4 linked regions of the Homo sapiens genome follow. The protein of the gene in region 1 interacts with the protein of each later gene in a pairwise test. Each region holds a gene or a part of one and is shown in the gene's direction. Other genes may lie near its edges.

The links. Proteins that work in one complex are often made in the same cells at the same time.
Region 2: the proteins of TRIM14 (region 1) and PHF11 interact in a two-hybrid assay, tested with the Homo sapiens proteins (one large-scale study listed by BioGRID).
Region 3: the proteins of TRIM14 (region 1) and PPP2R3C interact in a two-hybrid assay, tested with the Homo sapiens proteins (one large-scale study listed by BioGRID).
Region 4: the proteins of TRIM14 (region 1) and PRDM6 interact in binary tests that used the Homo sapiens proteins (3 or more experiments, as listed by UniProt).

What each region holds. Positions count from the first base shown.
Region 1 is NC_000009.12:98,095,223-98,098,722, reverse strand, and holds part of TRIM14 (tripartite motif-containing protein 14), read left to right. Parts: intron 1-3,500.
Region 2 is NC_000013.11:49,519,953-49,523,452, forward strand, and holds part of PHF11 (PHD finger protein 11), read left to right. Parts: intron 1-941; coding exon 942-988; intron 989-2,090; coding exon 2,091-2,155; intron 2,156-3,222; coding exon 3,223-3,289; intron 3,290-3,500. Other genes in the region: SETDB2-PHF11 protein, read left to right, coding at 942-988, 2,091-2,155, 3,223-3,289. UniProt on the Homo sapiens protein: Positive regulator of Th1-type cytokine gene expression.
Region 3 is NC_000014.9:35,087,982-35,090,990, reverse strand, and holds part of PPP2R3C (serine/threonine-protein phosphatase 2A regulatory subunit B'' subunit gamma), read left to right. Parts: intron 1-2,980; coding exon 2,981-3,009. UniProt on the Homo sapiens protein: May regulate MCM3AP phosphorylation through phosphatase recruitment. May act as a negative regulator of ABCB1 expression and function through the dephosphorylation of ABCB1 by TFPI2/PPP2R3C complex.
Region 4 is NC_000005.10:123,095,741-123,099,240, forward strand, and holds part of PRDM6 (putative histone-lysine N-methyltransferase PRDM6), read left to right. Parts: intron 1-3,486; exon of another isoform or gene 3,487-3,500. UniProt on the Homo sapiens protein: Putative histone methyltransferase that acts as a transcriptional repressor of smooth muscle gene expression.

The sequences.
Region 1 (3,500 bases):
TACTTTTTTCTTTTTTTTTGAGACGGAGTCTTGCTCTGTCGCCCAGGCTGGAGTGCAGTGGTGTGATCTCGGCTTACAGCAAGCTCCACCTCCCACCATTCTCCTGCCTCAGCCTCCCGAGTAGCTGGGACTACAGGCGCCCCCCACCACGCCCAGCTAATTTTTTGTATTTTTTAGTAGAGATGGGGTTTCACCATGTTAGCCAGGATGGTCTCCATCTCCTGACCTCGTGATCCGCCCCCCTCGGCCCCTCAAAGTGCTGGGATTACAGGCGTGAGCCACCGCACCCGGCCGATGGTGTTCCTGTCTTTAGGGAACCGTGGAAGAAACTGTTGTCTGGTGTCAATATCCCTGTGCAGTCACTTCTGCACTAGAATTGCTTTTCCACTAATAGAGCTCCTCCTGTTTCCTTCTTTGCCTTGGGAAGTTCAGAGCCAAATCTGCTTTGACTAACCAGACTAAGGCTTCATGGCAAACACTTTGTGTCTAATTTTCTCTTAGCTTCATTTTTCTCGCTATAAAGAAAAATCTTGCCTTATTAGAGGACCTTCACAAGACACTTTAAAGGCTGTGGGACAAGGCAGGGTACAACTAAAAGTGGCACCAACTCTAACCACAGATTAGTATGGGCTCTGGCTGGAAAATAAGACAGACAAATAAGCCAGTCAACACAAAACCCGCCAAGCCAGTCTCCAGCTGGGGATTTCCACTCTTGTGTCTTTATGTGGCCTCAGTCGGTTCAGCCTGTGTCTCATTGTCAGCTGTTTGAGCCAAATTCTGGATGAAGTGTTTTCCTAGGCATAATGGGTGTTGTGCTTTAAGAGAGGCAAGATGCACAAAGTGTTACATGTAATTGTCTCTTTTTAAATAATGGTCGTTTTTAAGGCTATGGAATACAAAGGAATCCTTCCATGGAGAAGCATGCTATTCTCACATCAGAAAACGGTTTCAGGGCTTTGTCATCTTTTTTTTTCAAATTCTCTTGGGCCACAGCTAATGATTTTAATCATTCACCGTTCCCACCTTCTATGTGTTCATTCGTTTATTCATCAATATGTACTGAGCCAGGTCACTTGCTGGACATTAGGAGCTCACAGTTGGGTGGGGGACTTGCTCAGAAACAGTTATTTACAATACAGCTTAAACAATTTTGTAAATATGAAGCTAGCAAAATTATGTCCAAGAAATGTCTGACACTCTCTGGCTGGGAGAAGGATGCAGTCTGGGAAGACTTCTAGGAAGAGGTGATGGTAGGGTTGGGTGCTGGACAATGAGTAGGAGCACACTGTATATAGAGAGGACGCAGAGAGGACAGACAGGAACTGTGTACATGTGAGAGCTTGACAGGCTGGGGAACCAGCTGGGGTGCAGCCTGACTTGAGGAGAGGTGAGGGTATAAGGGTGGGGGGATTGAGAGACACAGCTGGATCCATAGGCCATAGTTAGTTCATGAAGGCCTTATGTGCCATGGAGTTCAGACTTTGTCCTGTAATGAGATAGGAGACAGGAATGTTTGTTTGTTTGTTTTTGAGACAGGGTCTCACTCTATTGCCCAGGCTAGAATGCAGTGGCTCAATCTCAGCTTACTGCAACCTTTGCCTCCCAGGTTCAAGGGATTCTCCTGCCTCAGCCCCTGGAAGAGCTGAGACGACAAGCACGTGCCACCATGCCCAGCTAATTTTTGTATTTTTAGTAGAGACAGTGTTTCACCATGTTGGCCAGGCTGGTCTCAAACTCTTGACCTCAAGTGATCTGCCCACCTTGGCCTCCCAAAGAGCTGGGAGGTGTGAGCCACTGCACCCAGCCCAGGGGAGTGTTTTGAACTGAGGGATGAAAGCATTCACATGGTCAGATTAGTGCTTTAGAAAAGTCACTTTAGAGATAGAGTGGAAGATGGACAGAGGAGGCCAGGATGGGAGGCTGGAAGAGAACTTGGGAGGAGGCCACAATGTCCAGGAGAGAGATGATGGTGGCCTGGACCAAGACAGGGGCAGTGGGGATGGGGAGAAACAGGCAGGTCAAGAGATGCCACAGGAATGGAGATTGGAATTGGAGAATGGGTAGGAGGAATCCCCAGATGATGCCTGGGTTTCTGGCCTGAGAGATGAAGGGCTGGGATTTCTGTTCTCTGAGTCTGCAAAGGCAAAAAAGTGGCTGTGCTCGGTTTCATGCATTGATTTATTCCATCATACATATGTTTTGAGAACCTGTGTGTCAGGTCTGGTGCTAGCTGCTGGAGTTTGGGGTTACCAGGTGGTGCCATGTGTCCTCTATCGACCCCTCATCCTACCCTACTCATCTGCCCTCTGAGCCCCCTCTCGCCTCCCCGGAGCTGCTCCCTGCCCACCCTGGACTTCCTGCTAGTGCTTGGTCTCCCCTGGCCAGCTCCATTCCAGCGCTCTGGGTGTGACCTTAGGCCTGGTTCCCCACCAAAATGAGGTTGGACTCTATAGACTCCTGGCCTCCTAGGCTGAATGGGGCTTGCAGGCCATCTCACAGCCCCCTCCCAATGTACAGCATGCTGCCAGGTGGGATCTGCCCCTGCCCAACAGCCAAGTGCTAGGCCACCCTCCCTCCCTCCTGAGGCCCTCATCTGTCCACCCCTTCTCGGGTGGGCAGCACTGCCACTGCCAGCCAAGCCTGATCACCTGAGGCAGTCATCTTCCTTCCAACTCCTGGCCAGGACAGAGCTTCAGAAAATGCAGCCATGGTTCTTACCTGCAAACATGAGAATCCACTGGAACTGTTTTAAGCAAGAAAGGAGTTTATGGAAGAGTATGAGATAGCCCATAGGATCTCCAGGAGGGCCAGAGAGTCGGGATGGAAGATGGGCAGCAGGAATGAAGTCCAGACTCCAGCAGGGGTTGGTGCCAGTATAGGCCCCACGGCACCCCTGCTGGGCAAGACATCACCACTCACACCACTGACCAGAGCCCCCACCACTGCTGTCCCTCAGTGCCACATGCCACCATCACTACCTTCACCGTCATTTCCAAATCCACGCTTTGGCTTGGAGGCGTCTGGTCACACTCCTGCAGCACAGGTGCAAAGGGAGCTGGGAGAGGGGGTTTTCTAGCTTCTCCTTAGTGAAGCCACATACCACAGGAAAGTATTGAAGAGGGGCTGTCCAGGTGCAAAACAGGACACATGTCCCCTGCGGTGGCCACACCCCCTCAGTCAGCACTGCAGCTGAACCTTGCTGGCCTTTGGCGTCCTTCTTAGAACATGGTTTCCTGCTCCACCTTTGAATAAGCTCCAGGTGCTCCTTCCCCAGGGAGACTGACCTCTCACCCTTTTTGTACCCAAGGCAGACCCGTGGCGCAGTGTGTGTGAGGCTGAAGCCTCTCTGGGAAGGGCCCCGTGTCAGCCTGACCCTGCCTTCTGCATGCATAGCTGGCACAGAGTAGGTTTCAATGAACACGTAAGGAAGGAAGGAAAGGAGGAAGGATGGAGAGGGAGGAATCCCCAGTGCCAGCACTGAAAAACCGCACCTCCGCATG
Region 2 (3,500 bases), on another chromosome or scaffold:
ATCTGAAGAGGAAGGGAGATGAAGCTGGGTGCCGAGGAGGAGGAAAGGTTAGAAAGTGGCCTGAGCAGCTCTATAAAACGATTCACTTCATTTCTTTTGTTTTGTTTTGTTTTAAGACAGAGTCTTGCTCTGTGGCCCAGGCTGGACTGCAATGGTGCGATCTCAGCTCACTGCAACTTCCAGCCTCCTGGGTTCAAGCGATTCTCCTGCCTCAGCCTCCTGAGTAGCTGGGTCTACAGGCACGTGCCACCATGCCCAGCTAATTTTTGTATTTTTAGTAGAGGCGGGGTTTCACCATGTTGGCCAGGAGGGTCTCCATCTCTTGACCTCGTGATCTGCCCGCCTCGGCCTCCCAAAATGCTGGGATTACAGGCATGAGCCACCGTGCCCGGCCTCACTTCATTTCTTCATCATAGCCTGCTATGCTGCTGCTTTCTCTTGGAAGATACTAATCAGTTCTAGGCCCTTTGTAGGTCAAATCTAAGATCTGGGGCAAATACCTGTTTTCATCGAAAATGACTTTTTCCTTAAATTAATGCTTGCAATTTTGTGCTATTTATTGTTGAAAACCAGCAGAATCTTGTACAGTCAGATGGAAATCTGCATGTCTTAGATTGTGGATCTTTAGGTATCTTTATACAGTAAAATCTCACTGACCACTGTATATGAACTAGTATTGTTCATAATACTTCATCAGTACTCATTCCTTGAAAGAACATAATCATCTTCCTAAGTCCCTGAGGGCATAAAAGACATCTAACTGAGTCTCCATCTGCACTCAGTGTGGGTCACTAATTTTACACAGGGCTTCAAAAAAAAAAACTTTAGTGTGACGCCGTCATGAAAAGTAGGTTGGTACGTTTTTAATCACAAAAATAGACATAATATTTGAAACCTGTAAATAAAAATATTTTACAATTCTTTGAAATTAAATATTTCAGACTGCTTTGCCAGCAACATGCTCAATTCCCGATCATCGCTCAAAGTGGTAAGTTTCTAAAATTTAGCACTGTGGGTTTTAAAGAAAGGTAAACATTTATGTAACATAAGGAATAGTCTAATTTTCTAGCCTCGTTGAATTAAAATACAAATGTTTGAGTTAAAATTTTACACATCTAGAAAATTGACAACTTCTTTGTGTACTATGTGATATGACTGACTAATTTTTTCTTCTTTATGAACAAGACCTATTCTCTTTGAACCATTCCCTGGTATCTTTCATTCTCCCTACGCTCACAGAACCAAACTAAGACATGGGAAAAAGCCTTGACTTTTGGGACTGCTTCTCTTCCATAAGAATTTTCAGTAGATAAAATTTTAAAAGTGCTGCACCTTCCCTGAGTGAAAATTCCCTAAGGATGCATGGTTAGCATTTCAGTTCTAATTAAGGCAGACTGGATCCTGGCTAACTGGAGTCATGGGGTATACTTTCATTCATGAGTGGAACAGCAGTGTCTTAGCAGCACTACATCTGCAATGTTCATTGTGAAGTGGAGTCAGGACCTCGTTGGAAGACTTCGTTCTGCGTCATGCCAACTGCATTTTATGGTGATAACATTCTCCAAATAGCACCTCTACAATCATTTTTCAGTCGTTACCCTTTTAACTCAGCAGGAAAGGCTATTACAGATACTTCTTTAAATCAGTGTTTATTGACAGGGAAAAGCACCAGCAATACACACTTAACCAAATCCTTGCAAATGTCATCTATTAAATATCTTCATCCTTATTAGTCTGTTTTACTTTGAATATCTTCTGAGTGAAATTGAGTGCATTCCCATATCTTTTCACCAATTATATTTGTTTTCCTATGACCCAATTTGTTCATTTTTCTATTCAATGAACCCTCTCCCCAGAGAGTTCCCCATGTGCCAATTTTTCTACTCAATTATTTACCTGTTTTGCATTAAACTTATAATATCTTTTTTAAAAATTAACCCTTTATCATAAGTGCTGCAAACACTTAGTTGAAGTTTGCCATATCTTTTGACTTTGTAAAAACTTTTGGCATATGAGTTGTATATTTCATGTAGTCAAACAGTAATCTTTTCCTTTATGGATTCCAATTTTTAAATGGTTTATATTTTTAGCTAAATTTTCAGGAGTGAAAAGAAAAAGAGGAAGGAAGAAACCCCTCTCAGGCAATCATGTACAGGTAATTTGACTTAGTTTTTATAGCTTTGCATTTCTTCATACAGAGTCCTTATTTAAACCAGTCTGAATGTCAGGTGAAAGGTACTTTCCAAATCGTCCAAACAGAGAGCCTTTGAAGAACATTCTTCATTTGTGTTCTCAGCTAAGGCTGCTCCTGAGGTTGCCTTTTTAGGAAGAATCCCATAGTCGGGAAGCTCTTAGATAATTCCTAGATGATAGAATCATGATGAGATGAGCATGAAAATGAAGCTGGAAGTTCCAAGCACATAACCTTCAGGAGGTGACATTCTCCGAGCTCCTATAAATTCCCTGGCACCAAACTAGTGAGAGCATCTGACCCCACAGGTGCTTACAGTTAAAACGGGCAGAGGGTGCAGTCAAACATCCTTATGGAGCCAAGTATTTCCCAGCTGCATGACCCACACCTGACCAAATCTGTAGCTCTTATAAATTTCTGGATTATGTATAAAATGTATGAAAATATTTTGGGGATTTGAGTTTTTACACATCAGCACATATAAGCTAAATTCATATGCGCCAGCAACCTTCACCTCCTCCTGTTTATACAAGGGGTGCTTGTCAAACACCTCTTAATGTTTTATAATACAAAACAAAAATATATTTGATGTTTACATCTAAATATGAATATGGGGTTTTTTTGTTTTTTTTTTTTTTTGAGACAGAGTCTCTCTCTGTCACCCAGGATGGAGTGCAATGGTGTGATCTAAGCTCACTGCAACCTCTGCCTCCTGGATTCAAGTGATTCTCCTGCCCCAGCCTCCTGAGTAGCTGGGATTACAGGCATGCACCACCACGCCTGGCTAATTTTTGTATTTTTAGTAGCAACAAGGTTTCACCCTGTTGTCCAGGCTGGTCTCGAACTCCTGACCTTGTGATCTGCCCATCTTGCCCTCCCAAAGTGCTGAGATTACAGGCGTGAGACACCGCGCCCAGCCAGGGCATGATTTTTACTGTAGGCATATCATTTAGTTATGCACAGCAAAAGACTGGTTTTCATTTTATGCAATATTAAAATCAATGTAATGCAATCTTGATTTTCTCTCCTAGCCACCCGAAACAATGAAATGTAATACATTCATAAGACAAGTGAAAGAAGAGCATGGCAGACACACAGGTTTGCGCTAAGTGTTGTCTGTAACAAATATGGCCTACAATACTTATAAAAATGTCAACCCACCTGTTTCAAACTTGGTATCCCGCCTAAATCTTTATTCTTCTAGGCTTGTGGTAATTAATGAGTATAAATCTTTATCGCAACTGTCCACTCTATTGTAATCCCAGCATATCAAGATAACTTAGGTTGGAATGGTCCATTGCATTCAGTA
Region 3 (3,009 bases), on another chromosome or scaffold:
GTAATCCCAGCACTTTGGGAGGCCGAGGCAGGTGGATCACAAGGTCAGGAGATAGAGACCATCCTGGCTAACATGGTGAAACCCCGTCTCTACTAAAAATACAAAAAATTAGCCAGGTGTGGTGGTGGGTGCCTGTAGTACCAGCTATTTGGGAGGCTGAGGCAGGAGAATGGCGTGAACCCGGGAGGCAGAGTTTGCAGTGAGCCGAGATCGTGCCACTGCACTCCAGCCTGGGCGACAGAGCGAGACTCCGTCTCAAAAAAAAAAAAAAAAAAAAAATTGTGAGATGCAGCAAAAGCAGTGGCTAGAGGGAAATTTATAGTATTGAATGCATATACTGGAAAATGTTAAAGATCTAAAATCAGCATCTACTTTAGGAAATTAGAAAAAGAAGAGCAAATTAAAGATATATCATTTGGTTTAAATTAAATATTTAGTAACCATTTTACCTAACTCGTGATTTTTATTTATTTTTTTCTTTTTTTGAGAAAGGGTCTGGCTCTGTCGCCCAGGCTGCAGTGGCATGATCATAGCTCGCCGCAACCTCCAACTCCTGGGCTCAGGCAGTCTTCCCACTCAGCCTCCCCAATAACTGGGTCCACATGCCTGTAATCCCAGCTACTTGGGAGGCTGAGGCAGGAGAATCACTTGAACCCAGGAGGCGGAGGTTGCAGTGAGCTGAAATCGCGTCACTGCATTCTAGCTTGGGCAGCAAAGCAACACTCGGTCTCAAAAAAAAAAAAAAAAAAAAAACTACAACTACCAAAGTCTATAAAAATTTCTGTGGAAAGGAGCTACCTTTTCTGAACTGCTTAGCATCTTACAAGTTTTTCATCACAAGTATAGAATTTATCACATATTTGTATTTCCAATGGTAGTACAGCCCCTGACGTATATTTACATATTTTTATTTTACATCTAGTCAAATCAGCTTTCACTCAATTTTTTTAAGTAGGAAAGAAAACTAAAAACTTGATTTCTTTCTGAAATCTGTTATGTAAATGCTTTTATTAAATTTAAAAATCGGCCGGGTTGCGGTGGCTCATGCCTGTAATCCCAGCACTTTGGGAGGCCAGGGTGGGCGGATCGCAAGGTCAGGAGATCAAAACCATCCTCACTAACATGGTGAAACCCATCTCTACTAAAAATGCAAAAAAATCAGCCGGGCGTGGTGGCGGGCGCCTATAGTCCCAGCTACTCGGGAGGCTGAGGCAGGAGAATGGCATGAACCCAGGAGGCAGAGCTTGCAGTGAGCCGAGATTGCGCCACTGCACTGCAGCCTGGGTAACAGAGCGAGACTGAGTCTCAAAAAGAAAAAAAAAAATTAAAAAATCATACCCCAGGCATGGTGGCTCACACCTGTAATCCTAGCACTTAGGGAAGCTGAGGCAGGAGGTTCACTTGAGCACAGGAGTTTGAGACCAGCCTGGGCAACACAGGGAAACCCCAACTTCTACAAAAAATTTAAAAAATTAGCTGGGTGTAGTGGTCACATGCCTGTGGTCCCGGTTACTGGGGAGGCTGTGCCCAGCCAGTTGTAGATACTTTTATTTGCTATGTTGAAATAAACCATGAAAATAATTTTTAGGCCAGGCGTGGTCGCTCATGCTTCTAATCCCAGCACGTTGGGAGGCCAGGGAAGGAGGGTTGCTTGAGCCCAGGAGTTGGGAAACCAGCCTGGGCAACATAGGGAGACTCCATCTCTACAAAAAAATTAAAAATTAGCTGGGTGTGGTGGCACATGCCTGCAGTCCCAGCTACTTGAGAGGCTAAGGTGGGAAGATCACTAGAGTCCGGGAGGTCAAGGCTGCAGTGATCCATGATTTGCCACTGCACTACGGCCTGAATGACAGAGTAAGACCCTATCTCTAAAAATAAAAATTAAAAAAACTGAATGCTATATGGGCTTATATCAGCGGCTCATCTGAGAAAATAAATACCAACCCATCATAGGAATGCCCCTACTTTAGACAAACCTATTAGGTAAAAATCCAGTCTTAAGAAAATAAATGTATTTGAAATTAAACACTGCTCTTTTTCATAAAGATTTCTTTACAGTATTTTCTACTCTTAGAATATTAAATTGTTTTAAAACTACTTTAAAAATATTTCATATAGGCATTTTGTCAAAGCTTATTTAGGCTTGGTTATATGGGATAAGGTAAAAAGTGTCCAATGCTGAGCCCTATAATCCTGGGCTGTTCACAGAGCGTTTGGACATCACTATCCTAATGATAAAGCTGGGTCTGGATGATTCACTCTAGATCATACCATCTATTACTATATTAACAGAGCATGTACTCAGATTCTTATCTACTTCAAAGGGATTCCTTTATGGATACTCTGATTATTAGTGGTAACAGAGTAGGCATCGGGAACAAAGTTGACTGTTCACCAAGAATTTGAAACTTCACATTTCCAGTGAATAATGCTCACCTGAAGTATTTTGTATTCCTACTGGATGACAGCAGTTTCTTCATTTTTTTGTTAAAGTTTATGAAAAGGAAGAGTTTTGGGAGGTCTACCTCCATTTCTTGTATTACGTAGAAAGCAAAGTGTAGGGTAGGAAGGGAGACAGTAGATTGGGGATCTTAAGAGAATAGTGAAGGCAGGAATAACATTCATGGAAAATGAGAGGAGCAGATCAAACAGAATAATTGTGAGGCCATGCTGAGGGCCTGTTTGAGGTTGGAGAACATTCCTATGTAGAAGCAGCAATCCGTAATCTTTTTATTTTTTTTCCTGAAGTTCTCAATAGTTAAGATATAGGTCTAAAAAGGTCAATACACTAATCGAGAATTTAGGTTTTGCTCACTGATGTGGAATAAGGTCAAGAAAGCTAAGAAGATTGGCAAGAGAGAGAATGATGAGGTTTGTGGCCTGATAGGAAAGGAAGTATAAGTAGAAAGGGGTTGTAGGGCAAAAGAGGGATGTTGTGTATTTCATTTTTTATTTACAGATTTATTTCTATTAAATACAGGCCATACAGGAACTAATGAAAATCCATGG
Region 4 (3,500 bases), on another chromosome or scaffold:
AGGCGTCGGGCAGGTACTGGGGAGTGAAGATGTGATGTAGCTCTCACTCCCCACGCGCCTACACATGACTGTTGGCCTCTCCACACACCAAAAGCCCGGAAGCGTTTTATATTTCACCTTTCCTAGAACGAGAAATGAAATTCCAGAAAAGAAAACCATGGCCTGCTTTGCCGCCTTTACCTTAAAATAGATATATTGTAAAGATCTATTGCACTTTAAAGACATTGAAACAACACAGAAGGATAGGAAATGAAGAGTGAAAGTCTGCTCTTAACTGCACTTGGCCTGGCCTTCTGATGCCAGGAGGCGAACAAGTCTGTAACCTAATGACAGCACCTTCCTTTACTCAGAGACGCTTAGACAGGAGCATTGACAGATTTACTCAAGATAGAAGAGTATTTATGAATAACAATTATGAACTTGTACAAAAACTCTTCCCCTGATTTTAAGAGAAAGTATGAACATTTACTTGCTTCCTTGTTAGGAACCTAAGTAGTTGTATTATGTATTGCTTGGCTTGGAATGCTCTGTGTGTGTATATATAATATAATGACATATATTATATACATTTATACATAGTTTGGTCCTCTCATATAGCCTGCTTCTCTTTCAAACCTTTTCATGTAGGTGTTTATACTCTGCTAGAATGTTTGTCTTCTTAAGCATATTTGTCAATCCCAAGAAATGTTACTTGTTTTTAATATCCTCAAGCTACCCTGAGACTCAGACATAAGTTAGAACCCAAATGTTTCAGCTGGGGGATTTTGTGTATTAAAAAATAACATTGGAATATAACATGTATCTTGATGGCAGTTGGTCAACTTTTCTGGCAGAATATTTTGATATAGCATGAAGTGGTTCACAAATTAAGAAGACCCCTGTTGGGTGGACTAATTAAAGTTGATTGACTTTGTCTAGCCTGCTGTGGACCTAACACACAGATAGTCTTCTAGATATTGGGAGAGCCTCAGTTTTTCACTTTTAATAGTAGCATAATGCTACTATTAAGTTTTTCAACTCTTTATGGAGACAAATGAAACAATAAGTTGAAGACGGCTTTAGAGGACTTCTTGGAGAAAGGCCTTAGCCACAGTTTTATTATCATGCATTACAAATATTAGAAGTGTGCTTTTTGTCTATGGAGGTAGTGGCTGGAGTTGGTACCTATGCTGATGTCGTTGATGGGATGACACGTGTGGAGAAGCATGTTGGAAGTTGACTGTCTCTGGCACAGGCTGCTAGGGAATGAAAACTAAACACTCTTCTGACCATTTGCATCATTGAGTCAAGCAGAAAAAAAAATCAGTTAAGTAACTCCCTGGAGTGACTTATTTCTATTTCCATGGGCATATTGCCTTTGCTTATTGTCATTTGCTTTTAGCTATTTTTGCAAAGGTGCTGAAAGGCTGTCTCTGAAGTCAGACAGTAACATTCAAAATTATAGACATTATCTATGTATTTTCCTATCCAATCTCTTACTTTAATGTCCGAAAACACAAGAGTGTGGGAAAGAGAGAAACCTCTATAACTCAATCATGCTACAGCAATTTTCATGGCCCCCAAAGTTACTTCAGTGAAATATTTCAATTCAATTGAGTCATGAGTTTGAATGTTAAATTTCCCCAGCTTTCATTAGTCTTTTAAAAATCTCTGGGTTTAGAGGCCTTGCAGTCAGGCAGCCTTGACTGTGAATCCTTTCTCTGCCACTTTCTAGCTTCTGGTTCTTGGTGGAGTAGTAGTGCTTGGGAATTGCTTTATCTGCAGAATGGGAATCATGATACTTAGATAATATGCTGGTTTTTGGTTCTAGACAGGTGTCTGACACATGGTATGCACTGTAATTGTGTTTATTGTCTTTCATGTAATTCCCAAAATGTCTTGAAGTTTTTATTTTCACAATCAATAAGCTTGAGAGGGTGTGTGAAGTGTGTGTGTTTCAGAGGAGTTGACATATGGATAAGTGTGAGAATACTCCCATCCAGGCCCTGGGGTCAAAAGCAGAGTCTGGGAGAATTTTAACAATAGTTTGTGTTGCTGGCAGAGGAAGGACAGAAGAGGGCCTTTGTGCAAGGGAGGCCCAGCGGCATGGACACTTCTCTGCTTTCCGAAACAAGTTGTTGCTTTTCACTTCAGAGGTCTGGGGACATTTCTGAGAAGCTTGCAGCCCTCATTCTTCCAGCTCTCTTGGGAGGAGTAGAGGAGTAGCTGCTGACTGAGGCAAAGGTTTGGCTGGCTAGAGCCCCCTCCAGTGAGACAGGAGGCTTACATAGTCAGCCCTCCTTTGCTGTGAAGCAAATGGCAAATCGAGGGCTCCCTTACCATGCTGGGTTGCGATTAGCTGTTCCTGACACAAACGTTTCATACAGACTCACAAGTTTCTTGGGCATTTCGGTCATTTCAGCGCAGATAGGGCACATCCAGGGTGATCCAACAGGCCTGGCTGCGGCCAAGGCTGGCGGCGGCAGGTACCCGGGTGCCCCGAGGGCCACCCGCCGCCCCGCTCTGGCGCATCCATCAGTGGCCAGCTTTCACCGTGTCTGCCAGGCGGGACTCGCCAGGTGTCAGGCTCAGTGCCATAAGCCTGACACTTGCGCGGGGTCGCCGTGGCTCCTCAGGGAAGCTGGGCCAAGGAGGCTGGGTCGCGCCGGCGGGCGCCGAGGCCACCTTCTCGGGGCAGGCCATCCGCGCTGAGGCGCAGACACGGCGGCTCCTCCAGGCCCATTAATAACCCGGAGGGCGCTGCGATCCGACAGCGCAGTCGCCACAGGCTCTATTTCCCGTGGCCGCCTGCCTCCTTCCAGCCCAGTTCGAGTGGAGGGATACTGGGCGCCCACTACCGCCCGGCCCGGAGGGTGGGGGTCCCTCTCGCGCAGGCTGCTTTGGAGAGTGTCGGAGAGAGACAGCTTTATCTACAGCTTCACCCATTGTATAGCACAACAGAATCGCATTTAGCCTGGAGAACAGCCGTCGGGGCAGGAGTTGGTGCCTTCTCTAACAATTAGGCTGATCGTTAAATTTGCTATTCCTTTCTTCCGGCGTCTAGGGAGAGCGTGCACACCAAACCCTCCAGAACAGCACCCCGGTCCCCCACCCCGCCCCACCTGTCCCCGCCCTGCTTCAGTGCCTGGAGGGAGAACTGACTGGTCGCTTGAGGGACCCCATTTCGGGCGCGCCCTTGGAGTCCTGGGGCTGCGGCTCCTGCTCTACCGGGCTGCAGGCTTGCTCTGCCCCGTCCCGTGGCGTTTGGGAGGCAGTCGAGGAAGCCTCCGAGTCTCTGGGTCGAAGGAAGTGCGAATGGCACCCGCGATAGACTGGCCGTCTCCCCCACCCCGCCCCGTCTGGTGATTTTAAATCGTCTCCTGTGTAATTGTAAAAAGAGGAAAGCTGAATACCCAGACGACCAGTATAGAATCTCTTCGAGACAGCAGATTGGGCAAGAGACGGGCTTTTTTTCGCAATACAAGGATAAACACATCCTGAAACTCCAGATAGAAACCTCA